Homo sapiens: one gene and its partners. The protein of the gene in region 4 purifies or fractionates together with the protein of the main gene of each other region. This does not show direct contact. Each region holds a gene or a part of one and is shown on either strand. Other genes may lie near its edges.

Evidence for each region.
Region 1: the proteins of MEX3D (region 4) and FRMD1 purify together in Homo sapiens (co-immunoprecipitation; one large-scale study listed by IntAct). This does not show direct contact.
Region 2: the proteins of MEX3D (region 4) and ENPP6 purify together in Homo sapiens (co-immunoprecipitation; one large-scale study listed by IntAct). This does not show direct contact.
Region 3: the proteins of MEX3D (region 4) and P4HA2 purify together in Homo sapiens (co-immunoprecipitation; one large-scale study listed by IntAct). This does not show direct contact.

Annotation. Positions count from the first base shown.
Region 1 is NC_000006.12:168,050,850-168,058,002, reverse strand, and holds the end of FRMD1 (FERM domain-containing protein 1), read left to right. Parts: intron 1-279; exon of another isoform or gene 280-498; intron 499-663; coding exon 664-906; 3' UTR 907-4,908; downstream 4,909-7,153.
Region 2 is NC_000004.12:184,117,973-184,126,007, forward strand, and holds part of ENPP6 (glycerophosphocholine cholinephosphodiesterase ENPP6 precursor), read right to left. Parts: intron 6,301-8,035; coding exon 6,189-6,300; intron 1-6,188. UniProt on the Homo sapiens protein: Choline-specific glycerophosphodiesterase that hydrolyzes glycerophosphocholine (GPC) and lysophosphatidylcholine (LPC) and contributes to supplying choline to the cells.
Region 3 is NC_000005.10:132,216,417-132,224,451, forward strand, and holds part of P4HA2 (prolyl 4-hydroxylase subunit alpha-2 isoform 2 precursor), read right to left. Parts: intron 2,229-8,035; 5' UTR 2,211-2,228; coding exon 2,129-2,210; intron 1,503-2,128; exon of another isoform or gene 1,433-1,502; coding exon 1,336-1,432; intron 933-1,335; coding exon 781-932; intron 1-780. UniProt on the Homo sapiens protein: Catalyzes the post-translational formation of 4-hydroxyproline in -Xaa-Pro-Gly- sequences in collagens and other proteins.
Region 4 is NC_000019.10:1,556,714-1,564,748, forward strand, and holds part of MEX3D (RNA-binding protein MEX3D), read right to left. Parts: intron 211-8,035; coding exon 1-210.

The DNA of each region.
Region 1 (7,153 bases), on a different chromosome or scaffold from region 4:
TCACTCTTGAAAGACGTATTGATTAAAAACAAGGAAACACGCGTAGAAGGGCAAGTCAGACCCTGGCGCTGGGCAATCTTCGGCGTGGCCTGCCCCTGCCCCTGCCACCTGCCACCAGGGGCCTCATCTGCCTCCTGGGAGCACAGTGGTCCAAGGCAGATCTGAGGGGCCACGGCAGCCGAGAAGCTCGGGCTGGAGGCTTCACTTAAGGGCGATGACGCTGCCCGCTGGCCGCCCACCTGGACGGGACCTTGGACAGTCACCTCTGAACCCAGACAGTTTCCTCCCGTATAAAATAGGAGGCCGTTCTTGACCACTGAGGTGCTTCCAGAGCTAGTGTTCAAGGCCCACACTCAGACCTGATCCTAAATTACACCAAACGCTAAGAGTCCAGGTCCACTGAGTTAAAAGGCAGAAAGCAGCCCCAGGAAAGAAGCTGGGCAAGGTGGGGGCCTCCTGAAATGCATCAAAGGAAGATGCCAAGCCTCTCTCGCAGAGGTGTGTGCTGGGGGACCCGTCCAGGGGCAGGCCGGCCATGCACTGCGGCGCAGGGTGGGCATTGGCAGGGAGTGTGGCTCTGTGGCCACAAGCAGTGTGGCTGCCGTGTGCGGTGGTGGGAGTGAGAGGGGGCAGCAGGCCTCATCCCATGGCCTCTCCCCGCAGATCCAGGAAATGACAGCCGGGGTCAGTGAGGAGCAGCACAGCCATGGCCTGGACGACATGCAGCTGCACCAGCTGGCCCTGCACCCAGCGCCCACCTCACTCAGCCATACCTTCCACCGCGCCCTGGACTGCAGGCTGGCAGGCCCCTGCGAGACCAGGGCCACTCTCCCCAGCAAGAGGTCCAGCAACTGTCTCGCCCTGGACCTGTTCGGAGAGGCTCCACCACAGGAGTTTGTGGTGTAGGCACCACCCACCCAGCAGTACCGTCCGCACCGCCAGGCTCAGCCCCTGCCCACCCCACTTCCACATGGCCCTCGTCCCTTCCTGCCCGCCAGATGCTGCCTGCACTTCCGCAGCCAGCACGCTCCACAGGTTCACCTGTAAGAGGTGTGGAGCTGGCTCTGACATCAACCTGGGAGGTAACAAACAGGTCCCGCACCTCATGCCTGTCTGCCATACACCCGGGAGCTCTTTCCCTCAGGGTCTCAGGGAGCCAGTTCAAGGTCTGGCTGTCAAGTGTCCAGAGAGCCATGGTGTTGGCCCCTGAGGCAGCCTGTCACCCATCCTAATCTGGGAGAGAAGGTGACACAGCTGGGCCCAGACCCTGGAGAGACAGCTCTGCAGTTTCCCACACTGTCAGCTCCCCAAGAGACAGTCCTGATGGGCACAGGCTGCCAGAGCTCCCAAGCCGGAGTTCACAGTCATCACTGTGCAGGACCCAGGTTCCTCCCAGACCTGAACCCCTCTCTGCAACTCCTGTTTGCAAGCGCTGGGCCTGCCAGACAGAGGCCCCTCTTGTGGTGCAAGCCCAGCTCTGTCACCTGAGATCCAGCCAGAGACCCTCCTCCACCATCCACAGTCAATGGCTGTGCTTTCCCTTCCAAGCCAGGGCTTCCAAAGACCCCACTGCCCCGGAGCTGAAGCCGACTCTGCTCCCATCTCAGCCATGAGGCCTCAGGACCCACTCTGCTCACAGGTGGCTTCCTTAAGCCATTGCCCTGGCTGGGGTTGGGCTGGTGCAGCCCAGCTGGCGGAGGGGCGAAGCTTTGGTGACAGACGGAGAGTGGGGGACTAGCTGTGCATGGCACCTGCTCTGATCCGGTGGGCTCCACGGGTAGTGCGACCTCGGTTCTGTGGGCTCTGGAAGGCCACCAGGGTAGGGTCTCCCCAGGGCTCCTCCCCCTGCACAACACTCCTGCACACGTGCAAACCTGCTGTCCTCTGCATTTAGAGGAATGGCCCGTGCATCCCTGCTAGTCTCAGGCCCATCCCAGAGCACTGAGAGGCCACAATCGTTCAGCCCTGTGCCCTGAACACCACTGCCCCCTTCACTGTCTGTGTGTGGTGAAGACCACGCCACACCACCCTCCAGCTCACTGGAGACAAGCATGAGCTTGAGCCCCATGGCCTGGTGCAGGGCTGCGTGCATTGAGGCCGCCTCTTTGACGGGTCCATCCAGGGGGACCCTCTCCTTTCTGTGAAAGGGAATCGTGTGTGTGCCCCAGGCACGTGTAATAAAGAACCCGAGCAGATGCCTCCTGCTTGAACCAGGACCAGCCTGCCTGGGGGGCTGGTGAGATGCCGGCTGTAACTCACTCAGGGGCATCGGCCACAGAAGGCTGCGTTCTGTAGATGGCCACAAGCCCCAGTGCTGCCGAGGGCAAGACTGCCCACAATTCCTGTGCGGCAGGGGAGGTGCGCCTAGTGCTGGCTCAGATGTGAGCATGTGGGCACTTCCCAAAGCCATTCCCATTAGTACAAGATGATTGATTTGCCCCGCTCCGGGGCAATGACTATCTTCTTCCTTTGAAGAAACTTGGAAGCAAGAGCCCAGTCCCATGGACCATGAGGGAAGGTACACACCAGTGTTGGGGAGACACAGCAGGTGGTGTCCACCATGAAGCAGGGTCTGAGCCAAGACCTACATGCACACATGCACACATCCACATGCATGCACACACATACATGCACACACGCACACATCTGCACACAGATGCACACGCATGCACACACACACATGCACACATCCATACATGCACACTCCCCATGTCCAGGCTTCCCCTGCCAGTCACCTTCGCCACACGCCATAGACCCCAGGGGCAGCAAAGGCCGGGCCAGCCCACCCCTAACTTGTGGAAGCATCAGTGAAGCTGGCCCGGCGCCTTGTGTCCTGGCAGAGGCGAGGCAGCCATGGCCCCTGGCTGACCCGAGAAGCTTCTCTGGCCCCACTGGGGATTCCTATTTCTGTCCTTCCTCTGGGCCTTGTGGACAGACATGGAGAATTATGCCAGATGCCTGTTAACTACCGGGTAGGGCTGCTCCAAAGACTCTAATCTCTGGTGTTCAGGGTATGTGGAGAGGACAATTAGAGGCCCGCTGCCCTGAGACTTGCCCAAGAGGGGACGGCCAGGCAGGCCACATGAAGCCCATGTGGGCTACCAGCTCAGACACACCCAGCCGGGGCCGGGGCAGACTCCCCTAAGGCTTGAGCCTCAGCTTTGCTCACCGCCCCTCCCCACAGCCCCCTTCCACGTCACCCACACCTGGAGGGGCAGGAGCGGAGCTGGAAGCAGAAGGCCATCCTGGGAGGGGGCTCCTTCCCAGACAGAAAGCAGCAGAGAGCGGGGCTGCGGGAAGTCGGGGAAGCCAACCTTTCTTTTTGCACAGATTGAGATCAGAGGTCTTTTAGGCAATACGGCTATTTTCCAGAAAAATGGACACCGACTGGTAGGGACAGGGATGTTTCCTAAGAAGGAGGGTGGGGGGCAGGGCTGGGGGTGGCCTGCAAACAGCAGAAGCCGCTGTGTACAGGGGGGCTTGTGGCCTTCAGGTGGCATGAGGCAGGCCGGTGGGGGAGGGGCACAGGGTAAAGTCCCCAATCCCTGTCTTACCCTGTCAGTGGAGAGGAAAAGAAAACCACCTGTCCCAGTCCCTGTGGACCCCCAAGGAGCAGGCCAAGGACCTCCAGCATCACAGCCTCGCATGAGCCCGGCTGGGGTGGTCAGTCCTGTGGCCCGGGCCAGGTCAGCGGTCAAGCTGGCAGGTCCAGACTCGCAAGAACGACCCAGAGAGCTTGTTCAGGCTGGGTTTCTCAGCCCCCCACTGCGTCTGCTTCTGTGGGTCTCGCTGGGCCCCGGAACCTGCATTGCTGCTGCGGGGGTCTGGGTCTGAGGGCGCAGCTCTCCCTGCTGGGTGGGGTGTGGGAGGCGGCAGACCCTGCTCCTGGGGGCAGTTGGTCTGGAGTGGTGACAGGGTGGCCCTGGGCAGGGTGTGGCCGGTTCCCTCTTGCCTGTGTTGAAGCATGGACTCCTCTGGGCCCTCAGCCATCAGCCCAGCCTCCCTCACGGAAGATGGAGAATTCCAGACAAAGCTCATCCTTCCTCCAGGAAAGCCTGCTCCATCTGCAGTAATTGACGGCCTGAGAAGCTCTGCTCTTGGGCTGAACCCCAAGCAGGAGGAGGAGGCCGGGGTCCTCAGGTGCCCATCTGGGAGGCCCGGGGCAGCCAGCAACTGCCTGTGTGTCTGGGATCTCACAGGAGAGGTGGTTCCCAAGCCGAGCATCAGCCCGTCGTGGCCCATGGACTCTGGGTTCCCCAGGCGGGGGAAATGTGCCAGAGCCACGGGGAAAGCTGAGCTCTGCGGCCCTGCGAGTGCATTCACAAAGGTTTATCAGTTTGTAAAACTTGCAGAAAAAGCCGTCCGTGTTTGGGACAGGCGGCCCCTTCCACTCAGGGTTCATCCGTCACGCTCCTTTCGCCTTGAGGGGCACTGAGGGCCCTGTGGGTGTGTGGGGCCCGCGTAGGGGAGGCTGAACTGGACACACACTTGGCTCGGTCTGCTGGGAGACGTTTCGGGGTTCCCAGTCATGTCGTCTCTACCTGTAGGAGCAGCAGGGAGTCTCAGGACAGGATGGCCAGGGCCAGAGGTCACCTGGTGAGGCGGACATGTACTCCCAACCTGGGAGGTGTGGGGACTGGAAGAGAAACAGAGCTGGCAGTGGGAGGCTGGACGTGGTAGGCAATGCCGGTCCTGCAGCCGGGCCCATGACCGTTCTCACGGCGGCGAGCTGTGATGGGGAGGCTGCCTTCCAGGTGCCAAGGTTAGAAAACAAATCCGGGGCAGCCCTGCCGGGAGAAAGCTGGTATTCTACAAAGGCGCGTGAAGAGGTGAACACGCAGTGGGGAAAATGGCGCGGGTTAATTGTTTATTAATCACAGGCAGCTCACCAATAAAACCGTCACCAAATATTGTGTTACTGTGTTTTTCAGCTTTTTAAACTTTGTGATGTGGTGGTTTTTTAATGTTTCTGTATTTAGATTTATTTTCATACTTTAGAATTTGTAATCTTATCTTTTGCCCTGAAGGAGGGCTCCCCATCACCATCTAACCATGGAAGTTTCAGGCCTCAAAACGGGGCCCAGGGTGAGGACTCCTCTGATCTCAGAACCTTGGGTCACACAGCGGCTGCCATTCCCTGCTCACATCCCCTGGCTACGGATGAGGCCCCCGGGCCACTGGGCACAGGCTGGGGCTCCCTCCCGGCTCGCCGCCGGCCCATGCCTGGTTCTCCAGCCGCCCCAGGGTGGCAGTGTTCATCCTGAGTCCCCTCCTGGCTCTGCCCTGGCATCTGTGCTCAGGTGACCAGCCAGGCCTCCCGCTGGCAGGGGTGTGGTTCTCTCCATTCAGCCACTGCTGCTGTCACAAACCAGTGCACGCAGCAGGAACTGGACGTCACCGTCACCAAGTGGGGACCTGTTCGCCGCACCCTCTGTTGTCTGTCCTTGGACATCAGGGCCATTGTCCGCCCACAGCCCTGGACATCCACGCTGTTGGGGCGGCGGCAGGGCCTGGCGCAGTGGGAGAAGAGGAAGAAGCATGTCCTCAGAGCCAGATGCAGGAGTGTGCCCTGTGGGGTGCGGGCCAGGCTCCCTCCTGAGCGGACATGGGAACACGTAACAGTGGGAACAGGCCGGCCTCCAATGGGGGCCTCTGCAGGAGGTGGGCTGGGAGGAGGACGCGCCTCAGGAGCCTCCGGGATGCTCTTTATGGCCAGGCACGGTGCTTCACACCTGTAATCTCAACACTTTGGGAGGCCAAGGTGAGCGGATCACTTGAGACCAGGAGTTTGAGACCAGCCTGGGCAACCTGGCAAAACCCCATCTCTACAAAAAATATAGAAATAAAATTAGCCGGGCATGGTGGCGCCTGTGGTCCCAGCTACTCGGGAGGCTGAGGTGGGAGAATCACTTGAGCCCAGGAGGTCAAGGCTGCAGTGAGCTGAGATCATGCCACTGCACTGCAGCCTGGGCGATGCAGCAAGACCCTGTCTCAAAAAAAAAACCAAAATGCTCTTTGTTCTCTGAGGAAGGGGCTGCCCAGCAGAAGGTGGTGGGAGGGCATGAGGCTTTGGCAGCCCTGACAGTGCATGGGTGGAGTGCCCACCTGTGGGCTGGGGTGCAGGTCTGGGAGGCCGGCACTGTCCCCCTCGGTGGCAGGTGTGTGAAGTGAGGCATCCAGTGGGGGTCCGGGGCCGCCTCCCCGCAGCCTGTCCTTGTGTTTTGCTTCTCACATGTGATTCCTGGGAGCAGGTGCCCTGGGCTCCCAGAGAGGCTGCAGGACACACACCAGCCCCGGCGTGTCCACTGCACTGTGTCTTCCCTCTGGTCACTACAACAGATCTTCATAGGCCGTGTGGCCTCACTCTGCCCACTCCTCATGATTCTGGAGGCTGGAAGTCCAGGATCGAGGTGCCGGCCAGTTCCATTCCTGGTCCAGGCCCCCTCCCTGGCCGCTACGTCTTCTCAGGGCGGAAGGGGCTTGCGAGCTCCCAGGGCCCCCCTTACAAAGGCACTAATCCCACCCGTGAGCCTCCATCCTCACAACCTCACCGGCTCCCACAGGCACCCCCTCCTAACACCATGGCCTTGCTGGTGAGGATTCCCACACAGACGTCGGGGGGCGCACTCAGCCCACCCTGCATTACACGCTGGGACACATCCGGCTCATCAGTCTCCATCCCGGTCTTGGGATCTTCAAGGCAGGAGCCTCCGGCCTTGACTGCAGTTTCCTCGGTGCCAAAGCAAGACCCCGGTACAGGAGGCAGCCAATAAATGGGCACAGAACAGGTGAAAGAGGGAGGGAGGGCCAGCGGATTGGTGCTCTGTGCACCTCAGTGGGCAGGGCTGGCTTGCTCTGGCTGTGCTAACTGTATACACCTCCTTGTCCACCCAGGCTGAGCCACAGTCCACATGGCTGTGATGGAGCTGAAGCCCCTGCTGAGGGGCAGCTGGCGTCCGGCCACGCCCACCCCACATTGTTCTGGCCCCCCCCACCCCATCCCGGGGCTTGCCCGAGGAGCATGGCTGAAACTACAGAACGTCCCTAGCACTTCAGGGAAACAGATGTAAAATATCCGTGGGTTTTGGCCAAGCTCCACCAAGAAAGGAGAAGGTCCAGGGAGTTATGAGACCCCCAGGGCGTCGGTCACCCA
Region 2 (8,035 bases), on a different chromosome or scaffold from region 4:
ACTCTCTGAAGGTGTTCACGCCCCCCGAAACCTTGTCCCTGGGCCAGACAAAGCCAATACCCTAAAATAAATGAGGTCAGATCTCCAAGGGAGAAGCACACACTGAACCAAGAATTGCTGGTCCTGAGCAATTCTTTGCAATCTTTGAACATAGAATTCGCAGTCTTTGAACATAGTGAAGCTTCCATAAAATCTGTCCTTTGGATAAGCCTCAGCATTTCATTGCTTTAGGTACGTGCACATTTAGCATTTCAGATGTGCCTGTTCACACAGTATGGCATCTGTTTAGGTGTCCACACTTCCAGAGTGGGCTTACATGTAGGGAAAAATCCGATTAAACTCAGTGGTGACTTACTATAGTGAGGAGTTTTCATGAATAAAGTTTACCATTGCATTAAAGTTTAACGAATGAACTAATTCTAGGTCTCTTCATGTTAGATACCTCTCCTTAGTGCAGCACTCCTGTCCTGGTTTCCTTAAGGCTATTACTCTATTCACAAACCTCCACATCATCCATTATGTGTGGCAATTTACCTGGTGGCTTTTGGTCAGGAAGCTGTCAACCCCAGATGCTGGGAATCCTGGATTTGTGATGCCTGTGATTCAGGGATTATACACATGTCTTTTGTGAAAGGATGATACGTTGACATTTCATTGACTCATTAGGACCCTATGTCTTCAAGGGCTGAGACCTCTTGCCTGTCTGGAGTTTAGCTGACACATGCTTGCTTGCCAGCTGTTTTCCACAGGGATCTGGTTTCCATCCCAGGTCAGCTCATTTGCAATGAATTGTTTGGGTGAGGAGTGACGAGTAGTCATGCCTGCCCACCTACTACTGGCCATTGACAGCTCTAAGGTCCAGGAACCATTCTAGAAGGACATGTGGCCCCCAGCACAGTCACCTGAGAGCTGCAAGGGGTTCCTAGCCCTGGGGTTTCAGGGACACCTGAGTCTCCCATCACCTTATGATTCTGTCCTGATTTCTTTGCCATGTAAAAAGTTCTTAATGTTCTTTCCATTTTTCTTACTAAAGTGGCTGACTGTTAAGAAAAATGATCCAAAACTTAGAAATAAAGCCTACAGTATGATTGCCTGTCTTCTCAGTGCCATGGTGAGCACTGTCTAATAAGCTTGCTTGAGTCACCAGACTGAACTACTGATTGGAGTTCAGACTCCGGAAACGTAGCTGTTAGCTTGTAGGAAACTGATAAGATGAAAATTATTTTTGTCTGATGGAGAAAGCAGCTCTAACATTATGGTTTGATTATCCTCTATATTATTAAGCATATCTGCATCAAACAATAATTATCACTCATCATTCTCCATCCTTCTGTTTCTTGGTGTGTGTGTGTGTGTGTGTGTGTGTGTGTGTGTGTGTGTGTGTGTGTGTGTGTCTCATTTACTCCTTATAAGCAACTTTGTCATGCTCCTGGTTCCCCTCAGCAAGAAACTATGTTGAACCTTGGCATATTCCTCATACCCAGATGTGCTGAGCATATGACAAGTCTTAATTTTGAAAATTCTCTTTTGACAGGGTCATTGGAACTAGACAAATTCGGGATCAAACTCTGGCTTCTCTTCTAACTAACCTCGAGGCCTCAGATAAATGGCAAGATTATCTCCAAGCCTCCGTTTTCCCATCTGAAAAACCTACTTGATATGGTTTGGCTGTGTCCCCACCCAAATCTCATCTTGAATTGTAGCTCCCATAGTCCCCATGTGTTGTGGGAGGGATCCAGTGGGAGGTGATTGGAGCATGGGGGCTATTCTCATGATATTGCTATTCTCATGATCGTGAGTGAGTTCCCATGAGATCTGATGGTTTTATAAAGGGATTTCCCCCCTTTTGCTTGGCACTTCTCCTTGTTGCTGCCATGTGAAGAAGGACACGTCTGCTTTCCCTTCTGCCATGATTGTAAGTTTCCTGAGGCCTCCCCAGCCCTGTAGAACTGCGAGTCAATTAAATCTCTTCCCTTTACAAATTACCCAGTCTTAGGTATGTCTTTATTAGCAGCAAGAGAACGAACTGATACACTACTCAAAGGGTAACATGGTGTATTAAACAAGCTGATGTGTATAAAGCACTTGACACATAGTAAAAGGGAGGGGAGGGGAAGAAATGCCTCCCATTTCTCTCCTCCTTCCAGGTGGCCCTAGATCGCTTTTCCTGAGTATGTGGCTGAGCAGGCATGAGGAGCCAGTCTCCTAGCCCCAGCCTGATTCCTGCTCCTTCTTCCCTGTACTCTACAGGGAGGAGGGTCCAGGCCAGGACAGGGGAGCTGGCTTCCTGGTGGCCCGTGGAAAGAGTTGTGTCATCCATTCCTTCATTAGTCCAGGCACCACTGAGGCTCTGGGATCCTGAAGGCAGTCCTTTAGAGCTGTCTTCAGTAGCCTGGAGCTTGACAAAGGACCATATCTATACACAGCCTATGGCTGTGCCCACTGTTCCGGCAGCCAAGTTGTTTCCTGACTGACACTTTTGTGAAGCTGCACAGTGAGTCTGCTCTACAAGCCTGGAAGCAGTTGTCCGGCCCACTGTGACCCCCTGCTCTCCTCCACCAACCCCATGAGCCATTCAAGGCTCATTTCAGCTTTAGCACCATGCACCTTTTCCTGCCCACTGAACCACGAATATCCTGCAAATCGGACTTCCAGAAGGATGGGAGTAAGTGATGCAGATCACAAACCCTGCTTCCTTTTCAGCCAGGAAAAAGGGCCGTGTGTGGGGGGCACTGCCTGCAGACTGCCCATGTGTGGTGGGAGGCACATGGCTCCGGTGCCTGGGCTGCAGGCTGCAGAACCCCAGGCCTTAGGATGGCCCCAAAGAGAACACTTGCAAAGAGGCGCGTCTGGACTCCCTGTCGCTGTCTCAATTTCAGGGTGTCTTAGAGGTGTGAGCTGGCAGAGATCAGGGTAGAGGACTGAGGAGTTGACCCTGGAGTGGTTCTCAGGCACCGTGTCCCCAAGGCAGGAGGCCTCCAGAGTCTGAGCCCTAAGCCGCTGTGGAAAGAGCTGGGCTCTTGCTCCACCACTGGCTGGCTTGTGAGGTCCAAGAAGTATTTAACCTTCAGAGAGCCAGTGGCCTCTTTTGTAAGGTGGGGAGAGCAATGCCTACACAATACCACGGACATGAGAACCAAGTGGGTTACTGGATATCAAGCCCATTGACACAATACTAGCCAATGGCTGTTAAAGCACTAATTCCCTTCCCTCCTCCTTTTCCCTATTCTAGAAGTTGTCCAAATTCAAAGGTAGCATTTCACAAGGATATGTCTGGGGTCAGTAATGCGTTATGAGCACTGGAAGGAATGCCTGAATCAAACTTGGGCGAGGGATTCTCTTTCCTACCACAGGCTGACATAGATCCTCTGCTGAAATGTCCCTGAGCAGACCTCTATGTTCAAGATCTTAACAGCCTCTCCTGCTTTCTGTCAAAGCCCATCTATCCTGGGTTCCATTCTCTCTGCCTCTCAAGTTAATAGCAAAGTGGATTAAAAAACACACTCTGTGAGTCTTGTAGTGACTTGGAGAAATGTGTGTGCATGTTTGGGCACTCATGTATGAAAACTCCAAGTGTTCCTCAAATTATAGTTAGGAATTTGCAGTAGAGCTGAACAGAAGTCAAGAGGTGAGCTGTGGCATTCTAGACATGCTCCTCTTTCAAGGGTCTCTGATGGACAGACCAATAAGCCTACATCTTTGCTAGACACACATACCAAGAGACTTAATGATTCCTTTGAGCCACATGATTGCATGGACAAGCTGCTACAGGCAAAGTGCTCTTGACTGGTCTAGACTGTTCTAGACTGGACATCTTCTTCACTCACCTCATTCCTGAAGGAGACAAAGGTTAGATTTCTTTCAAAGAAAAATGTTGACCCACAACTTTCAGGCCTTTATTATTCTTTGTAAGAAGGTGATGAGACATGTTCTAATAATAACACACAGGTTGGCTGAAGGAGGGGCTTCCTGTGTCTTCAGGGGAGGCCCAAGTCATCTCACTGTCTTCCACAGGCAGTATCATCCAGCCTATTATTATTCTTTTCTTTCTCACATGTCAAGAGCTTCCTAGCTTTAGAGGTAGTGGGTCTCCATCTTTCCACCTACTACCCAAAGGGGCTGTTTCTGGTGGCCCTGTTAACTTTGGCAATATGAAGACCCCATGAGACAATTACACTGACCTGGTTTCCATCCGACCCAGGCCTTCACTGCTTCCAGGGCATCATTCTTATTGCAGACCATGTGAATGCCAACCCATGGAGCTCAAGGCCATCTACATAGACCACAATTTAAATACGTGGAGCTGGGCAGTATGGTAATGCCAGGGCACATTAGGTGGCAGCCTAGCTGGGGACCCTTTCCTGGGCTTCCGGTTCTTTGTAGCCCTTTCTTCCTGGTGGAACCCAATACCTATGGTAGACACACACTCATACACCACCACCACCACCACCACCACCACCACCACCAGAACCTTCCCCATTCCTAAATATTCTCCAAGGTAAAGATGCATTTCTATAGCTTCTCTAGAGGAAACAGAGCCCAGCACTTATTCCCCGCTGCATGCTGGTGTCTCTCAGGACAGGGAAGTCTGCTTAGACTGGCCGGTGCCAACCTGCACTGGCACTGCTTAGTAGGCCAGTGCCAACCTGGGATTCTCATGGCTGTGTGCTCTGTGCTCACCCACCTGTGAATCACCGGGTGGTACAGAGTGACAATCCATCAGCTGTTAAGATAAGATGAATGCAAAAAGGATGACATTGCCAAACAGACTGTTGGGTTATTTGGAGGTATCTGTATGACAACTCTAACCCGAAATTTCATATTTGGCACAGCCATGGCCTGTGGGGATGGCTGGCATTCTGGATATGTTGGAAACAGCACTGGTTAGACATGGAGCAATGTCCAAGTGCCAGCCCCACTCATCTGCTACACGTGCTGTGCTATTCTGCTTCACTCGCACAAAACTAGACTGCAGCGCAATATACCGGCTCATCCTTGTGTGGTTCTCCAGCACTCACGGGCAATTATTTCTCCATTTCTATGTGTTTTAAACCTGTTTTCTCTCCGACCTGTCAATGAGAGCATGAACCTTTATGAACCCCACCTCCCTGGACCCTCTTGATAGGTTTCGTGGAAGTGGAATCATTCTAAGAAGCAGTGAAGGCAGGGTGCTGTTTTCTGCTTTCACAGCTCTGTGGGGGTGGCTGCTGCTCACCATGGCATCGGAAGGGCGTGGCAAGAAGAAAATCTATGATTGGTCAGCTCTGTATCTGAGGCAGTTTTAGGGACAGGCCCTTTCATGTGGCTCGTGCTAGTGCTCTGTACACTGTGCCTGGGTATGTTGGTTCTCGGATATGCCCAGCTTGAAACCAGGCTCCTTTTCTTGGGGGGATGAAGGTCCTGTCCCCAGCCTCTTTGCTCTGATTATGGTGGGTCTTCTGCCTGACGCACACAGGAAACCCATTCAGTGTCCACAGTGACCTCAAGTCCACTCCTGGAAACTCAAAAGCCCCCAGCATCTGTAACCTCTCGGTTGCTGATCTCTACTTAATGCAAACTCCCACTTGGGCTCCCATCTTGACTTCCACTTCCAGAGATTTCTGAGACTGACTTCAGGCTTTGTCCTGAACTGTCTTGATCAGTGTCCTTGACAGACTCTTGTGTGCTATACAAGAGAGCATTACTAATTCCTACATTTTTCAAATTGTGTGTCATGGTTCCATGTGGGAGGGAAAAAACAGATTTTGTGTTCTAATATACCCATGCATTTTGTACATGGGTACAAGAAGGGGGTAGGGTAGGCAATTTTCCCAAACTTATTTGACCACATATCCTTCCTTTTTGCCAAATACTGATTAGTACCTTCAGAGACACAATTGTTCACTGACTAATGCTTAGGGAAATGATGACATTTATATTGTTTCTCCGTTGTTTAACAACATAAAAAAGGAGATTCAAACCCTTAGGGATTTTCCTGCTCTCAATTCAACATTTCCAGAGATTGCCCCTGCCTGAAATCACTTGCTCACAATTACTCCCTACTAGCAGTTAACAATCACTATGCAAGACTCTCACCAACTCTCTGACATTATTTCATCTCCACAAAGCCCTCTTAATTCACTTTAGGATCCATGATCAGTCCTGGAAACAAGGAAGAAAATGGTGTGGCTAGAGTTTGGGACACTTACTTGAAGGAGTCAAGAGCATCGCTGACTGCATTGGCAAAATTGATATCCGTTGGGACATTTTTATATTCTAGGCAGTAGGTGGGTCTGACACCCAGAATCTCAACCTCACAGCCTGAGAAGGAAAAAGATGGCAAATAGTTACTCTCTTCAATAAGTAATGTCGAGTTATGAGCCTATTTCAGGAAGCAAACACCATTAGTCAAAATCAAAAATAAAAATGTTGAGTATTTTTATGAACTAAAATAACTTATTGCTAATAAGTGGTGTATTTAACTGTAATTTTGCATAACCAGAGCAGAGGTTCTCAAATGTCATTCCTATGCAACACTGGTGTCCCACATCAGAGACTGGCAAAAATTAGACCACAACTGTCTTTCCCAATTTGAAACAAAACACAATTAATCAATATACACAAATACCTCAATTGAAAATTTCTTCAATAGATTTTTCATGAATCTAAGTCTTTCATGAAAACAAAGTCTTCTAGTGTACTTTTGCCTCTTCTAGAATCAAGTATTAGGTAGCATCTGATTAGTCAGAGGATTATAAAATAAATATTTTACTATCCTGTGGCATTATACAAAAGCTAACTGGACTTAGAGGTACTCTGCCAAATTGGCAAGCTAAGAATCAGTGAGTTCAAGCAATGGGGTCTGAGCCGTACCCTTGCCTGGCCCAAAACAGAGTGAAAGAATCAAACTCATTCCGATGTGAACAGACTCAGCTTTTCTGCCCCAGACTCCTGGACAAGTAGAAGTAGTTGCTCTGCCGAGAAACACCCATCCATATTAGGGAACATAGAACAGGAGAGGGATGTGCCCACCTTGGTTTCTGCTAGTTGAGTAAATATTTATTGGGCATTTACTATGACCGAGTCACTATGTTCAGACGTACTGGAAACAGGAGTGGATCTGGTAGGGTCTCCTTCCGGGAGCATCCCAGAGTTTAGTCTAGTGGGAGGGGACACAGGAAAGTGTGTGGTATGTGAAGTCTAAAGGGAGGTGCATGCTTCCTGGGTGTTGTGGGAATCAGATGAAGGGCACTGACTTCAGGCATCACTTCCTCCTGAAAGCCTTCCTCAGGTCCCGATGTTGGGCTCAGTTTTGTAGATTTAGCCACGGCAGTGGGATGCAGGTGGGCTGGGAGGAAGTCCCAGGCAAAGACAGCAGCTTGACCAAGGGTTCAGAGAACTTCTGAGCAACACTGTATGTGTAGAGAACTGTAAGTACCATAAAATGCCAGACAATGGTGCCAGGAGACCAGATGCTGCTCTTTCTTGTAGCCCAGGGAAAATGATTTCCAAGGTGAGGTAAGTAAAAGTGGGGCAGAGGGAGCGCAGGAGGAAAGGAGGAAGGAGTCCCTGTCAGGAAGCACATCAACCCCACCCCTGGGTACATCTGCCAGCTGGTTACAGCTGATTTAAAAGATGACAGGGCAGCCTCCAGAAAGCATCCCTTCATCTGGCATACTATAGCAAGACCTGGGTGTGTCATGAGAGACCCTATTGCTTTCTGCTTGATATGTTGGATTCAGGGAGAGCAAGGGCTCCTACAATCACTGTGACAGAACTAGAAAAGCAGGAAGTTTCCTTTTCCAAAACATGTTTTTTGAGAGGGAAAAATAGGCTAGGTGACCCAGAAATAAATACTGCTCATGACTTCCAGGAAAATATTCATTAGAGTAAGAAATGTCAGTGGAATCTTGAATGACTATATCACTTTAGATACCAGTGTTTTATCTGTTGAAGGTGATTTGTGAATTGTTATTGCTCTCTCAAAGCTATTTTTTCTGTATCCACCTTGTGCTCAGTGCCAGAAACCCCAAAGCAAATAAGATATCACCCACCC
Region 3 (8,035 bases), on a different chromosome or scaffold from region 4:
TATGTAAAAAGGTGCTGATAATTCAGAAAAAATCCCATATCCAATGACTTGACCCATTTGACAGTATTATCAGTATGACAGATTATCACCATCTGACAGGTAATCACCATCCAGCCATTAAAATCATGTTGCAGAAGAACATTGAATGGCATATAAAGAAGCTGAGAAATTCACAGAATTTTTTCTTCTGTCACAAATCTACCAACAGATATGCTTTGTTTGTAAAACATATGAATAGGAATGAATTTAGATCAGACCTATGCTCCCCAACTTGCCCTGGCCCCACCATCCAGCCCACTTGACACTTGTAAATTCATTGTCCCTCCAAGCAACTGAGTTTGCATGCCCTGGTATGTATGTATAGTTCCATTTTTTAAATGTATATGCATAGGTAGAAAAACTACAATTTTAATAATGCTCACCACTGGGCAACTGGATTAAGAATTATAATTCTCTTGTTTTTGTGTTTTCCGACTTTTCTATAAACATGTATCACTAAAGTATAATTGGAAAAATGTCATTAGCAAAAAATAAGAAAAGACAGACACTAAAAAAAAGACGCTAAAAAAAGAACTGAACATCATTACATGTTAAAAACCAAGGCCAGCCAACTTCCAGGTCCCCACAGAGAAGGGAGAGAGCCATGAGACCAGCAGGGTCCTGTTTCCACAATGTACTTGCCCACCAACACCCAGACCCAAGACAGGCTCAGACACAACAACCCAGGCATGAGCACACAAACATATGGGCTCACTCAAGCACCTGCTCACCGTCCCTCACCTGCAGCTGAGTCCTGCAGGACAAGGTCCTCCAGCGCAGGCCAGTCTGTGTTTAGCCGCTTCACCAGTTTGTAGGCATTCACAGGGTGAGCCAGGTAGCCCTCAGCATCAGCAGCTGACTTGCTAGTCAAGGCTTCCATTTTGTTGGCCCAGCTGTGGAACCAGAGGAAAAGGAAGACTAATGCGTCCACCCACATAGGTCTTGACCTGTGACAATTTTCCTAGTGAGAATTCCCTGGTGCCAGGTTCTGGGGCCCTTTTCATCAAGAGGCAATGAAAAATGAATACAGTAACTCCCCACAGATACTTCTAGCCCCTTAATCTAGATAACAGCTGGGACCCCCAATGTAAGGGAAAAGGTCTTAAATAGAAAATAAACAGTGACTCCTTAGCCCATGTACTTAGCTCCTCTCAAGCACTGGCATGAAGTAACCAGGCCAGCCCCACATCACCCTCTCAAAGGTTTCCTCTTATAGGCACCCTGGATGGCTTCCTTGTTCCTTGAGGGGCAGAAGGGAAGGAAGGCCAACTAAGGATGGTTGGGGACTTAGGACACCTCTTAATCTTGGAAAGCTTGGCTTCCTCCACAAGGATGTACTCTTTCAGAGACTGCACCAGCTCTTTCTCTGCATAAATCAGGTCAGTCATGTGCCCTGCAAGGGAGAGAAGAAAGACACCAGTGAGAAACAGATGAGGGATGTCCAGCCTCCTTCCTTGGGGCACAGAATACCAGCACAGAAGCAAGTCCCCTGGGATAAGAACATGTCAGCTCTCTGAGGATTATGGGGACTTGGAGTTAAAGGGGGCCTAGGCACTCATGGGGCTCTATCTCGCAACTTCAGGAAGAAAGAGGCAGAGGCACCAAGGGGATGTTTGAGATAAGTGCACTGGATGTCACTCAAGAAGCAGCCCTAAATCTCATTCTCCGACTGTTACATAGCTGGTCATGACACTGGGGCATGGATATCCTGGGGGCTCACCACAGGATAAAAAGCTCTGAACTTTAGGTCGGAAGGATAGGAAAAGCTTGATCCTCAGGATACAAAGGATTTGCTGCTCAGAACCACTCTCTGGTCCATGGGCAAGGTGGTCAAAAAGACCAGAGAGCCCAAGTGCAGCCTGCACTTCCCAGGAAGAAAGACCCAATTCAGACATCTGGCTCCCTGAACATCCAGATCATTGGGATCTTATAGGGGAAAACAGCAACTCTGCCAGTTCCACTCTCCTCAGAACTGGCCAAAACCAGTAGTTAAGGCTATCCCACTCTAAATGAGAACAGGCTGCAGCCAGAGACATCCGTGGCATGTGAGCCAAGGTGTCAGGGAGACGACAGTCCTGTTGGCACGTACCAATAGAGGTGAAGAATTCGGCCTGCACACAGCTCAGGACACCAAACCAGGCCATCAGCAATGCAGACACCCAGAGTTTCATGGTCACAGAGGGAAGTGTCTGAAAGGCATTCAATGACAATCACTGGATCAACAAAGTGAAAAAGACTAATTTAGGTGAGGAGACACATAGGCATGTACACACATATGCAGATAATCAAACATATCAAAATCCTGGCCTAGCACACAGAAGCTAAAAAGGACAAACAGCAGAAAGAACAAAGAGCGTGCAGCCAGTGATGTGTGCTCAATTCTGGTCCCTGCTCTGGGAAGTCACGTGCCCTGCGGAGAGAGCCCATCCTCTCAACTCCCAGCAACCACCTGTACCATGAGAAGGCGGAATCGCAGTGGGGTACAGTCAGCTCGGGTTCCAATGGTCTGTCAGTCCAAGATTCTGGCCCACTCCTTCTTATTTCACAGACTGCTGTTTGTTTCTATCTTACCTTCCAACACATATGCCAGGACAGTGCCAGGTTTTGGGGAACCAGTCCCTGCCCACAAGGAGGCAACAGTACATGAGAGACAATAACAGAAAGATAATTTGACACAATATCCTCCAGAGTACCAACACCCAAACTAAGGTGTACAACAGATGGCCAGCCAGAAGAGGAATAAAACTAACCCTTGTCAGTCTGCACCTGCCAGAGAAAGAGCAGTCAGAGGAGACAGTCTCCTAGGTAGACAGTGTTCTTCCTGTAGTAAGGCTCCTTGGCAGACACTGTTCTCACTGGCCCGTCACCATTCATTCACAAATATTTACTGAAGACCTGCAGATGCCAGGCACTGATCTAGGCACTCAGGATACAAAAATGAATATGGCACACATGGCCAAAACCTCAGGCTGGGCTGCTGACATGGGAAAGGGGCCAGCTACTGTCTTCTCATCAGCCCAGAAATAGGCACAACCTGAGACAAACCCCACTGGCAGTAAACCTCAGTCCACAACAGAAGCCTCCGATACCGTCTCCCAGCTCAGCCATGCAGCCTAGACTGTGCTGGAGGATTAGCACCCATCTGTACCCCAGCTCTGCCGGTCTTCTTCCTGCCCTGCTTTTGAGCACCCCACTGGAGTGCTCAAATGGAAATTCACTAAGACAAAGCAAGCAAAACAAAGGAAATACAAATGCTTTCCCAAAAAAACATAAGCCTTATCTGACAGAATTCTAAGTCTAAGATAATGCCAGTTCATCAGTTTTTTGCCCGCCATACTTGATTAGACACACAGCACACCCACCATTCCTCATCTTACTCTTTCAGAAGAAATCCTAATCCATTGAGATTCCAGGTTAGGCTCAGAGAAGGCCAACCACAACTCCCATCTGCAAATGGATCCTCTATCAGAAGGAAAGCATAAGTGAATGGCGCCATGTGTTCATGCCTATGCCAAATGTCTGCAGAGCTGACAGTCTTCCTGTCATAGTCTAGGTGTGGGGGTCCCAAGACACACAGGACAATTATCTTCCAACCTGGAACCTGCTGCAGGGTAGGGCGTATTGTGCTAAGGGGTCCATTAGGGAGTTAGAGCAGCAGAAGAGAGCAAGTCATCAAGAGAAAGTGAGTAAGCCTGGGCTTGCCCTGAGGCAGAGTCCAGGCCCTCCTGGTTCTAGCCACAGGTCTGCTCCAAGGCCTTACTATACTGTCTTCTCTATCCCAGGATTTCAGAAGGCTTCTCTCTTGCTTACACAAGCCCCTTATACCTAAGGGATTGGGTGTCTGTTTCTTGTTCCTCAAAAGGCTTGACTGGCTCAGGCTCAGCACCTTCTGTATGTATGTAGGGAGGGGACAGTGAAAACATAGAGCTGGGAGGATGTATCTGTGATCAGAAAGGGACCAGCTGACTGCTCCTCAGAGCTGGGGTGGTGGGAGAACAGGGCCCAGGCAGGTTCCAAACCAGACATGGTTGGAAGTGGGGAACCCAGCATCTCTACCCAGGTGTGTCTCCAGTTGCAGTTGCATACCTTTTTAGAGGCCAGATAAATTCCAGGGAGGAAGTCTGTCCATTCCTTTCAAATCATTCTGCTCCTATCATCTACGGTTCATACCTCACAACACTCAGGGAAAGCCAGGTTTCTTCATTACATGAATACCAGCTGTGATTTCTCTGGAATGTGCGATCTGGCTTAGACTGAGCCCATTCTTGAATCTCAGCCTGGAGGCAGAGCCTCAAAGAATCACAGATAGGGTTTGGGCAGAGCCTCAAAGAATCACAGATGGGGTTTGGGCAGAGCCTCAAAGAATCACAGGTAATTACAGATGACTTACCTACCAAGAGCCTGCAAAGTCTTGCTCTGGTGGGAGAAGGGGATAACTAACTCTGCTAGCCTGGAGAGCTGGGCACCTCCAAGCAGCAGCTCCCAGACTACCACATCAACACTGACATCTCTGGCAGGGGTACTCTGGAGCCCTACCCCATTTCTCCCAAGCCTGGGCCCCTTAACTCAAAAGGCTCTGTACAAAAAGTCCTCTAATTAGAGTCAGATTGGGAGGAGGCAGCATCCGAGAGGGACTGTGCCCCACAATGTGGGAAAGGCCAACCTCCAACCCATCTCATAACTATGCCCACAGCTTGCTTAAGACAGAGTAGGTGAAAGTATGTGTACCTGCTGAGTGCCCCTACAAAGTGTCCAGTGCTGCTAAAAGCCCTCCCAGAAACCCTCAGAATCCAACTGGAATAAGTCTGGAGGTGAACAATGTCAAACCCACTTTTATGAAAAACAAAGTGACATCTTGAGCAGAAAACCAATACTGAGTTTTATCTGTGCTGCATCCCCAGAGTTTAGAACAATGTCTGTCCCATACCAGGAACACAACAAAAAATACTTCACCACAGACTTGTTCAAATTAGGAAACTACAACAATAGAAGATTTTACATTTCTTCTATACAATGAGTTTTTATGGAGTATATTAAAAATGAATACTATATATCAACATGAAGAGATCTAAGCATACTGTTAAGTGAGAAAAGTGGGCCCCAATAATATGCACTCTATAATTCCATTTTTGTAAGGAAAAATTAATGTATATGTGTATATAGAGAGATGCAAGAAAAGAGTCATACATCTGGCTATATCTTGGTGAAATAATTTCTTTTTATTTTTATGCTTGTTTCTCTAATCTTTCTACAAGAAATTCTATAGCAATTTTTAAAATTATTTTATCATATGCTTAAAATGTAAAGAAAACAAAGCAGGCCCTTCTCAAACAGACTCCAAACGGGCCCTGCCAGCCCTAGTGTTTGGACCCCCACAGGAAAGTCCTGCAAAACCTGCCAACATCCCAGCAACAGTGATTCACCCATCAGGCGACTGGCACTGTTTCTAAACACAGGGCAATTCCAAGACATACAACCAGAGGTCCCACCAAACCTGAACTTTGGAAAAGACATTTACAATCTGGCCAAATGGCCATGAAAAGATGTTTCCAGCTGCAAACCAGCAGCGTCCTTAGCTTCTCTCCTTACCTCATCAGGCAGAATCTCTGCCAAGCTCCCAGCTGCAACCCAAATGCAACAGCCTGAGTTTTAACAATGTATTTAACAGCCTAGAGACAGAACATGAGCTTGCTGAGAACAAACTGGTCTTGCTTGGCACTGAACAAGAACCTGCCTGCCTTCTGTGAAGGGGGAAAACCTAACTGGACACGGCTCCCCGCTGCCTCCAACTCTAGGATAACAGGGCTGAAAGGACCTGTGTGTTCAGCCTAAGAGGATCCAGAGGCTCCAGGAGACCCTGCCACCAAAGCACATGGATGTCCATTCAGGCCTATAAGCTGCTGCCACGGCACCCTAGGCAAGTATGGGGGGTACCCTACTCTCCTTAGCCTCAGTCATCACCCTGATCTGAGCCACCCCTAACTTCCCCTACAGGCATCCTGGCCCCCACTACACTGGCCTCTCCACATGTCATCTGGCCTTCCTCCCACCTCTGCTCTACAAAGTAGCCAGCATGGTTTATCAAAGCCCTCCTTTGGCTCTCTACTGCCGTCAAGATAAAGTTCAAACTCTTTAGCCCAAAGGGTCCTTTTGAGTGTGTGACCAGGCCCTACTGCCCTCTCTAGCCTCATCTCACCATGCCAGGTTTCGTATCTTCAACAACTACTTTATGTGAAAAAATATTCTCCTTCACGAAGAACCTAATAAAGCCAAGATGTTTATCTGTATCTATCCACATACTTTCTCAGTCTGGTACATGAATAGTGGTTGACTTCCACTTCCCCACCTGGGTACCATCACCACCACAAAGTCTTGCTTCAGTAACTAGACAATGAAGTAGCAGAGAAGGCTGTTAAAACTGACATGCAAAAGCCAAGTTGGGTTTTCAGTCATAGTCTTGGCAGAGACTTGGCAGTCTGGATGAGACTAACCCACAAAAGGGAACTACACTTGAGGATAAAATCCATATACCACTATATTGGATGCATCTTACGTCCCACCTTGCAACCTCTTGGTCTCACCCATCTCCCAGGTCCCAGGGTATTTACTTTGCCTCAGCCCAGTGGAGGAGACTATCCAGGCCCACGCCAGAATCTCTGGCTCCTCTCACTATCTCCAGACTCTGTTGAAGTACCAGACTGGCCTCCCCAGTGGCTACCAAAGGGCCCTCATAGGGTAACCAAGTACATCTCTGTGCAGAGTAGCCAGCTTGCTAAAACACCACCTCCCATCCTCCTTTATACCTCACTTTTTTCTTTTGTTTTTTTGAGACAGTCTCGCTCTGTCGCCCAGGCTGGAGTGCAGTGGCACAATATTGGCTCAATGCAACCTCCACTTCCCAGGTTCAAGGGATTCTCCTGCCTCAGCCTCCTGAGTAGCTTGGACTACAGGTGTGTGCCACCATGCCCAGCTAATTTTTGTATTTTTAGTAGAGATGGGGTTTCACCATATTGGCCAGCTGGTCTTAAACTCCTGACCTCAGGCAATCCATCCATCTCGACCTCCCAAAGTGCTGGGATTATAGGCATGAGCCATCGCACAGGCCTGCACCTCACTTTTGTTTTCCCTCACCCTGGCTGCCCTGCAATTACACCTTCCAATAAAGCATTAAGTACTTAAGCTCTGTCTCAGGCTGTTTCCTGGGAACATAGTCTGAGATAAGCACTATTTGTTTCCAAAAATCTTTCATTTCTACTATCTAATTCTCACCCAAACCTTCTAAGCTAGATAACTACCTCCATTTCAGATATAAGATAGATACAAATGACAAACAGCTGAGGCTGAGAGAAGGTTTCCTACATATCTGACATCTGACAGCAAATCAATGACAGAACCAAGAGTCAAACCCAAAACACACTCTGCTAGATATTGCAGCTATCCAGTCCTACTCAATAATCTGTTACCTTAAAGTGCAATGGACTCCCAAACAGGGAAGCCACACTTTGCCCAGGAAGAACATGCCTGCCCAGGTTAAGGACTTTATCATGGGTTACACCAAAGGTTCATAAAGCAGGTCCATGACACGCCTGGCTGGATCTCACCAGAGGGAGGAACGCAACATGGACCCAGAAAACAGCAACATGGTCCCTTAAGTTCAGATGGGCAGTCACTCCTACCTTAGACATGACAGCACTCACAAATAACCAGCCAGTCCAGCTCAGGGCAAGGCAGTACAGTCAAATGGACAGGCACACCTGCCCTAGGGTCAGACATACTAAGAGTTAAACCCCAATTCTATACCACTTCCCGGCTTTGTGACCTTGGACAAGTTATAGGATTCCTCAGTTTCCCCATGTATATAATAGAGACAATACTAGGACCTATATCTCATAGGGCTGTTGGAGGACTGAATGTGATGACAGATGTTGGCAGGTAGCCCTGCACTAGGCATAATTTATGTCAATCATTAGTACCAAGGGCACCAGAGAAACATCAG
Region 4 (8,035 bases):
TGGGCGGGCCCTGGGCGGCGCCGGGCAGACCCCCGGCCTTGCTGCGCGTGGCGCGGATGATGGAGAAGTGTTCGGCCGCCGACAGGATCTCACGCTTGGCCATCTCCACGTCCTCCTTCCGGCCGGTCACGATGAAGACCGGCTCCTCGCCCCGCACTGGGGTCTTGATGTAGGTGTTTGTCTTGGCCCGCAGGGCCTTGATCTTGCAGCCTGTCCGGGAGGGAGGGGAAGGACAAGGTGACCCAGAGCCCCCTGCGCAGCTCAGCCCCGCTGGGCATGCAGGCTGCAGGGCCAGTGAGGGAGCCCCTACCTCCCAGCCTGTGCCCAACAACACTTTATCCTCAGACACGCCACGTCCCTTCTTCCCTCAGCCTCAGTTTCCCCTCTGGGCTCGAGTTTGGCCTAAAAGCAAGACGGCAAGGGGACCCTGTTTTAGGTTGAAAGGTGTGCGCCATAATTTATGTTCCCCTGGAACCGCAGTGTGACGGCTGGGGTGTGAATGTTTCCCCCAAGTTCACAAGCTGGACCCTAATATGCGGCGTTGACAGTATTAATTTAATACGTAGGGTCGGCTGGGCCCGTGGCTCACCCATGTAATCCCAGCACTTTGGGAGGCCGAGGCAGGTGGATCACTTGAGGTCAGGAGTTCCAAACCAGCCTGGCCAACATGGTGAAACCCTGTCTCTACTAAAAATACAAGCAATCATCCGGGTGTAGCGGCAGGCACCTGTAGTCCCAGGTACTTGGGAGGCTGAGGCAGGAGAATCACTTGAACCCAGGAGACGAAGGTTGCAGTGAGCCAAGATTGCACCACTGCACCCCAGCCTGGACGACAAAGCAAGACTCCAACTAAAAAAAAAAAAAAAGCGGGGTGCAGTGGCTCACCCCTGTAATCCCAGCACTTTGGGAGGCCAAGTTGGGTGGATCACGAGGTCAGGGGCTCAAGACCAGCCTGGCCAACATGGTGAAACCCTGTCTCTACTAAAATACAAAAAATTAGCCAGGCGTGGTGGCAGGCATCTGTAGTCCCAGGTACTCGGGAGGCTGAGGCGGAAGAATCGCTTGAACCTGGGAGGCAGAGACTGCAGTGAGCCGAGATCGCACACCATTGCACTCCAGCCTGGGTGACAGAGCGAGACTGTCTCAAAAAAAAAAAAAAAAAAAAAAAAAAAAAAAAAAAAAAGCCGCAATTAGCAAGGTGTGGTGGCGCACGCCTGTAATCCCAGCCACTGGGGAGGGCTGAGGCAGAACCGCCTGAACTCAGGAGGTGGAGGGTGCAGTGAGCCAACATCATGCCACTGCACTCCAGCCTAGCCACAGACCAAGACTCCATTTCAAAAAAAAAAAAAAAAAAAGAGCCACAGTGGCAGGGTCAGTGGCTCACACCCGTAATCCTAGTACTTCGGGAATCTGAGGCAGGAGGATCACTGGAGCCCAGGAGTTTGAGACCAGCCTGGGCAACACAGCAGGACCCCATCTCTACTACAAACAACAACAAAAAATTAGCCAGGTGTGGTGGTACACACCTGTAGTCTTAGCTACTCAGGAGGCTGAAGTGGGAGGATCACCTGAGCCCGGGAGGTGGAGGCTGCAGTGAGCTATGATCACACCACTGCACTTCAGCCTGGGTGACAGAGCAAAGCCTTGTCTCAAAAAAAGAAGGAAAAAAAAAAAAAAGACACACACACACAGAGAAGCTGGCCTTGTGGAGACACAGACAGAGACTGCAGTGATGTCTCTACAAGCCAAGGACTGGCCATAGCCCCCGGAAACTGAAGGCGCCCCCCGCCCTGCCCACACCTTGACTTGGAACTTTTATCTTACAGAAATGAGAGAGGAGACGTTTCCATGGTTTCAAGCCCCCATTGTGTCAGCCCAGAGAGCAACTGGAGACCCTCTGACACCACCTCCCGGCCCAACAGGAGGGGAAGCCGAAATTCAGATTGTGGAAACTGCCTACAATTTTCTTCCGGCCAAATGACCCTCCCTAGGCTACCAAGACCCTGGCCTAAGGGGAGCCGAGGTCTCGGCCCGACTGCAGACGCCCGCACCCTGACTCCAGATGCCTCCGAGGCATCCAGGTGGGCCCTGAGGGGCCTGCTGTGGCTTTGTTCTTGTTGGCTGGGCTGGGGGTCTGACCTGGTGAGGGACATGAGTGTCAGTGTGGGAGGCAGGGCTCTCCTCACCGATTGTGTAGGCAACCGCTGACCAGGTATGGCCTTCTTGGGGTCCCAGACATCCCTACCCCACCCCTGGGGCCTTAATGGTTTTTTTTTTTTTCTTTTCCTTTTTTGAGATTATCTCACTCTTGTTACCCAGGCTGGAGTGCAGTGGTGTGATCATAGCTCACTGCAGCCTTCAACTCCTGGGCTCAAGTGATCCTCCCACCTCAGCCTCCAGAGCTGGCACCACCATGCCCAGCTTAATTAGTTATTGAGACGGAGTTTTGCTCTTGTTGCCCAGGCTGGAGTGCAGTGGTACCATCTCGGCTCACTGCAACCTCTGCCTCCTAGGTTCAAACAATTCTCCTGCCTCAGCTTCCTGAGTAGCTGGGATTACAGGCGCCCACCACCACACCCAGCTAATTTTTTTTATTTTTAGTACAGATGGGATTGCACCATGTTGGCCAGGCTGGTCTTGAACTCCTGACCTCAGGTGATCCACCTGCCTTGGCCTCCCAAAGTGCTGGGATTACAGGCGTGAGCCACCACGCCCGGCCTATTTTTATTTTTAGTAGAGATGGGATCTCACTATATTGCCCAGGCTGGTTTCAAATTCTTGGGCTCAAGCAGTCCTCCTGCCTCGGCCTCCCAAAGTGCTGGGATGACAGGTGTGGGCCACTGCGCCCGGCCCGTGAAGGAGTTTTGAGCCACTGCTCACAACCCCTCAGGCTCTGGGGAAGCAGAGGGAGCTGCAGGGATGTTTCAATACAGTCAGAAGGTGGCTCTGAGGGGAAAACAGTGTTGCTAACTCTCCCACAGTGCAAGAGATGAAATGAGCAGGATCAGCACTTTTGACGGGGAAGAAGTCAGAAACTGCCTGGGCCAGGAAGATGGAAGGCGTGGGACCTGGAGGCTGGTGGTCCCAGGGGCTCGGTAGGGAGGACCCTGGGAGGGGTGGCGGGGGTGCACCCACTCGGAGGAGGACAGCAGTTTTCCCGCCCCAGCTGCACTGCCACCACACCTGTCCCTCCCAGTCGCAGCATTCTGTTCACCTCCATTGCACCCAGTCCCCTCCATTCTTCTGTACAGTCCGGTGTCCCCCTCCTCCAGGAAGCCCACCCTGACTGCATCGGGTTGGGCCTGCTCTTCTGAGTCTCTCCTAACATGCCTGACTCTCTGAGCTGCCTCCCTGAGGCTGGAGGATGGGGCTGGGGATTCCCTCGGCACTTGGGGGACCTTGCTATGCCTGTTTCTTCACTGTGAAAGGGGAAGGTAACAGGCCTGGCTTCACAGGCCCGGCTTCACAGGCCCTCAGAGGGCCATGACCAGGCCGTTGGCTCCTGGCAGCCACCCTGGCAGGTCTCACTGCAGCCCACAGTGTTTGCTTTAGATAGATCCTCCTTGAGGAAGGGAAACTGAGGCACAGGGAGTGGAGACCCAGCAAGGCTGGGGAAGGAGGTGCCACCCACAGATGGAGGCTCCGCTGGCCCTGCCCACAGGCAGGAAGTGAGCCTGTTCCCCATCACGCCGACCCGGCAGAGGGCAGAGCCCGCCAGCGTTGCCAGGGTGCAGCATGGGGTCCTCCCTTGCTGATCTGGGAGCCGCCCCGGGTCCCCAGAGGGTCACACGTGGGAGAGGCTGCCCCGACGTGGCCACCGCTGAGCTCACAGGCTGTGGTCACAGAAAGTCTGGTCTGGGTGAGATGACAAATTTGGGAGATGGAGGTGGCAAGGAAGGGGGCGTGTGACTGTCTGAGCAGAAACCAGGATGGTGCTGGGAGCCACGCGTGCGTCGGGGCAGGGGAGGGAACTGGCGCCTCCCCCTCCCCTTACTCCATCCTGCCCTAACCCAGACGGTGGCGCTGGGTGGAGACCTCACAGCTAGAAGGCCTCTAGGACCTCAAAGACGGAGCTGGAGCTCAATTCATTGGTGCTGCGTCTGCTTTGACACGTGCTGGCCCCCAAAACTCCACCCACATCAAGACGCCAAGGGGCCAAGGAATCGGGGCTCCAGGAGTGATCCCAGCCCACCCCTGCCCCACTGGAAATGACACAGCGAGGCTAGAGGGACAGGAAGCCTGAAGGGCGGGCTCTGGGGGACACCGAAGGTTGGCAGGCACTGAAATGCAGATTCGTGGGCCATGTCCCCAGAATTCCAACTCGGAGGGCTTGAGATGCCTGGGAATCGGGGTGACCACCCCAGAGTCTGGCCCTGACCTGTCCCACACCCCCAACCCACAGCAGCCAAGTCTCCCCCTACCAGGGCCCCACGCAGCACACACACCAGCGGGCATCACTCATCCAGCCCGTCCAGGGTCCTGGCTGCAATGACCGTGCACTACGACTTACCAATGAAACCACAAGTCCTGGTGTGGGAGCCGAGGCCACCAGCCCAGGCTGGATGGGTTTGCCATGGCAGGAAGGGGAATGTGAACCCCAGGGAGCCGCTGAGGCAACAGCAAGGACAGGATTCTAGAAGCAGGACGGGGCGAGAACAAGGCCTCACAGCCAACACTCAGTCCAACACGCAGCCGCCCCCAGCCAGGCAGCCGGGTGACGCGGGACAGCAGCATCCCAGACCTGGGCCACTATGGAAGCCAGCGGGAGCTGAGGGGTCTGGTGGGGAGGAGGGAAGCTGGTTCAGCTGTCAAACAGGGATGTCAAAACCCCCTCCCAGGCCAGGAACAGTGGCTCACACCCGTACGTAGTTCCGGCACTTTGGGAGGCCAAGGCAGGAGGATCACTTGAGGCCAGGAGTTCGAGACCAGCCTGGGCAACATAGCAAGATCCTGTCTCTATAAAGGGTGTCACCTGTCGCCCAGGCTGGAGTGCAGTCACAGCTCACTGCAGCCTTGACCTCCTGGGCTCAAGCCATCCTCTCACCTCAGCCTCCCGAGTAGCTGGGACTACAGTTATGCACCACCACCCCCGGCTAATTGTTTAAAGCTTTTCTGCAGAGACAGGGTCTTATTATGTTGCCCAGGCTGGTCTGGAACTCTTGGGCTCAGGTGATCCTCCCATCTCAGCCTCCCAAAGTGCTAGGATTACAGGTGTGAGCCACCATATCCGGCCTCTACAAAAAATTTTTAAAAATTAGCCAGGTGTGGCCGGGCACGGTGGCTCACACCTGTAATCCCAGCACTTTGGGAGGCCAAAATGGGTGGATCACGAGGTCAGGAGATCAAGACCATCCTAGCTAACACGGTGAAACCCCGTCTCTACTAAAAATACAAAAAATTAGCCGGGTGTGGTGGTGGGCGCCTGTAGTCCCAGCTACTTGGGAGGCTGAGGCAGAAGAATGGCGTGAACCTGGGAGATGGAGGTTGCAGTGAGCTGAGATCGCGCCACTGCACTCTAGCCTGGGCGACAGAGTGAGACTCCGTCTCAAAAAAAAAAAAAAATTAGCCAGGTGTGGACCGGGCACAGTGGATCACGAGGTCAGGAGTTCGAGACCAGACTGACCAACATGGTGAAACCCCATCTCCACTAAAAATACAAAAATTAGCCGGGCGTGGTGGCGGGCGCCTGTAATCCCAGTTACTCGGGAGGCTGAGGCAGGAGAATCGCTTGAACCCGGGAGGCAGAGCTTGCAGTGAGCCGAGATTGCACCACTGCACTCCAGCCTGGGCGACAGAGTGAGACTCCGCCTCAAAAGAAAAGAAAAGAAAAGAAAATTAGCTGGGTGTGTTGGTGCGCACCTGTGGTCCCAGCTACTTGGGAGGCAGAGGTGGGAGGATCGTCTGAGCCCAGGAGGTTGAGGCTGCAGTGAGCTACAATCACACCACTGCACTCAGGACAGAGCAACAGAACCAGACCCTGTCTCAAAAACAACAAAACAAAACAACAACAACAAGAAACCGCTAGGCGTGGTGACTCACACCTGTAATCCCAGCACTTTGGGAGGTGGAGGCAGGCGGATGACCTGAGGTCAGGAGTTCGAGACCGGCCTGGCCAACATGGCGAAACCCCGTCTCTACTAAAAATACAAAAATGAGCCTGGCGTGGTGGTGGCAGATACCTGTAATCCCAGCTACTCGGGAGGCTGAGGTGAAAGAACTGCTTGAACCTGGGAGGTGGAGGCTGCAGTGAGCCGAGACTGAGCCACTGTACTCCAGCCTGGGCGACAAGAGCAAGACCCTGTCTCAAAATGAAAAGAAAAAAACCTCTCGGGGAATGAAGGGAACATGTACACTGTACTAACGCCAGAACTCTCAGTTGGGTCTGCAGTGTGGAGGTTTCCTAGCAGAGCCTTTCTTCCTAGGGCTCTGCAGTGTATGGACAGGAAAACCATGGCATGGTCCCCACCAACACCCCAGCACTGTCCCCAGCTGTCGGGAAAACCTGGGGCCTGCGGGGATGGGAGGAGAAGAGGAGCCTCTGGGGCTGCAGCCAGGAACAAGGGACAGGAGGGGAGACAGTGAGCCAGGGGTCGCCCCCAGCTGAGGGGAACAACCTAAAATCACTAGCCTTAGCCTGTGCCGACAGCAGAGAGAGCGAGCCCTGAGCAGCTTCCAGTCCAGGCCCTGCCTTCAACATCACTCACTCATTCATTCATTCATTAGCCACAGAACACCTTCTGTGTACAGGCCCTGGCAAGACACTGAAGACCCAACCATGACCAAGCACCTGCCCTGGTTCCTGTCCCTGGGAACATGCAGGGGGAGAGGCTGCCACGGAGCACAGATTCACCCAGGGTGCCTGGCAAGCGGGGTGAGAAAGGAGGGTACATGTTGGGGTCTCAGCAGGAGCAGGGCCGGAGGTCCCCTAGAGCACCTTTGCTGGCCGGCTGGAGGGAGACGCCTGTGCTTTTGGGTCTCCACTTTGCCTGTCTCCCAGACAGGGCTGCCTCCCCTCACCCCCAGCCCTCAAGCTTTGGAATCTGAAATTTTCTTTGCTGACCCACCAGAGAAACTGGGTTTGAATCCCAGCCCATGATTTTTGTTTTGTTTTGGAGACAGGGTCTTGCTTTGTTGCCTAGACTGGAGAGCGGTGACAAGATCATAGCTCACTGCAGCCTCGACCGCCCAGGCTCAAGTAATCCTCCTGCCTCAGCCTCCAGAGTAGCTGGGGCTGCAGGAGTGTGCCACCATGCCTAATTTTTGTATTTTTTTTTTTGTAGAGACAGGGTTTCGCCATGTTGGCCGGGCTGGTCTCGATTCCTAGGCTCGAGGGATCCTCCTGCCTCAGCCTCTCTGAGTGCTGCTATCCCCTCAGTTTTTACCTATTCTTTACCTCTTGCAGCCTCTGCCTCCCCATCTGTGACCTGGGAGCTGCAGGACCTTTCCTGGGGCACATTATGGGCCTCAGTGAGATGGGGCAGGTCAAGTCTGGCATAGGCTTAGCACACAGTAGACCCTCAATAAAGATCTAGCCAATGGCCAGGCGCAGTGGCTCACACCTGTAGTCCCAGCACTCTGGGAGGCTGAGGTGGGTGGATCACCTGAGGTCAGGAGTGTGAGACCAGCCTGGCCAACATGGCGAAACCCCGTCTCTACTGAAAATACAAAAACCAGCTGGGCATAGTGGCACGTGCCTGTAATCCCACATACTAGGGGGGCTGAGGCAGGAGGATCGCTTGAACCTGGGAGGTGGAGCTTGCAGTGAACCGGGATCGTGCCATTGCACTCCAGCCTGGGCAACAGAGCGAGACTCCATCCCAAAAAAAAAAAAAAAAAAAGATATAGCAAATGAATGAACTGGAGCCTCCAGCAGATGGGTGGGAACTCAGAGGGTTTGAATGACCACAGTCTGCCCAGAAAGCACTCGGACCCCCTCTAGGATCAAGAGAACTGAAGCTCAGAGAACAGCACGTAGCTACTGGGGAGAGGGCTGGTGCCAGGCCTGTGTGACTCTTGTCTAGGTGGGGAGGCCGGA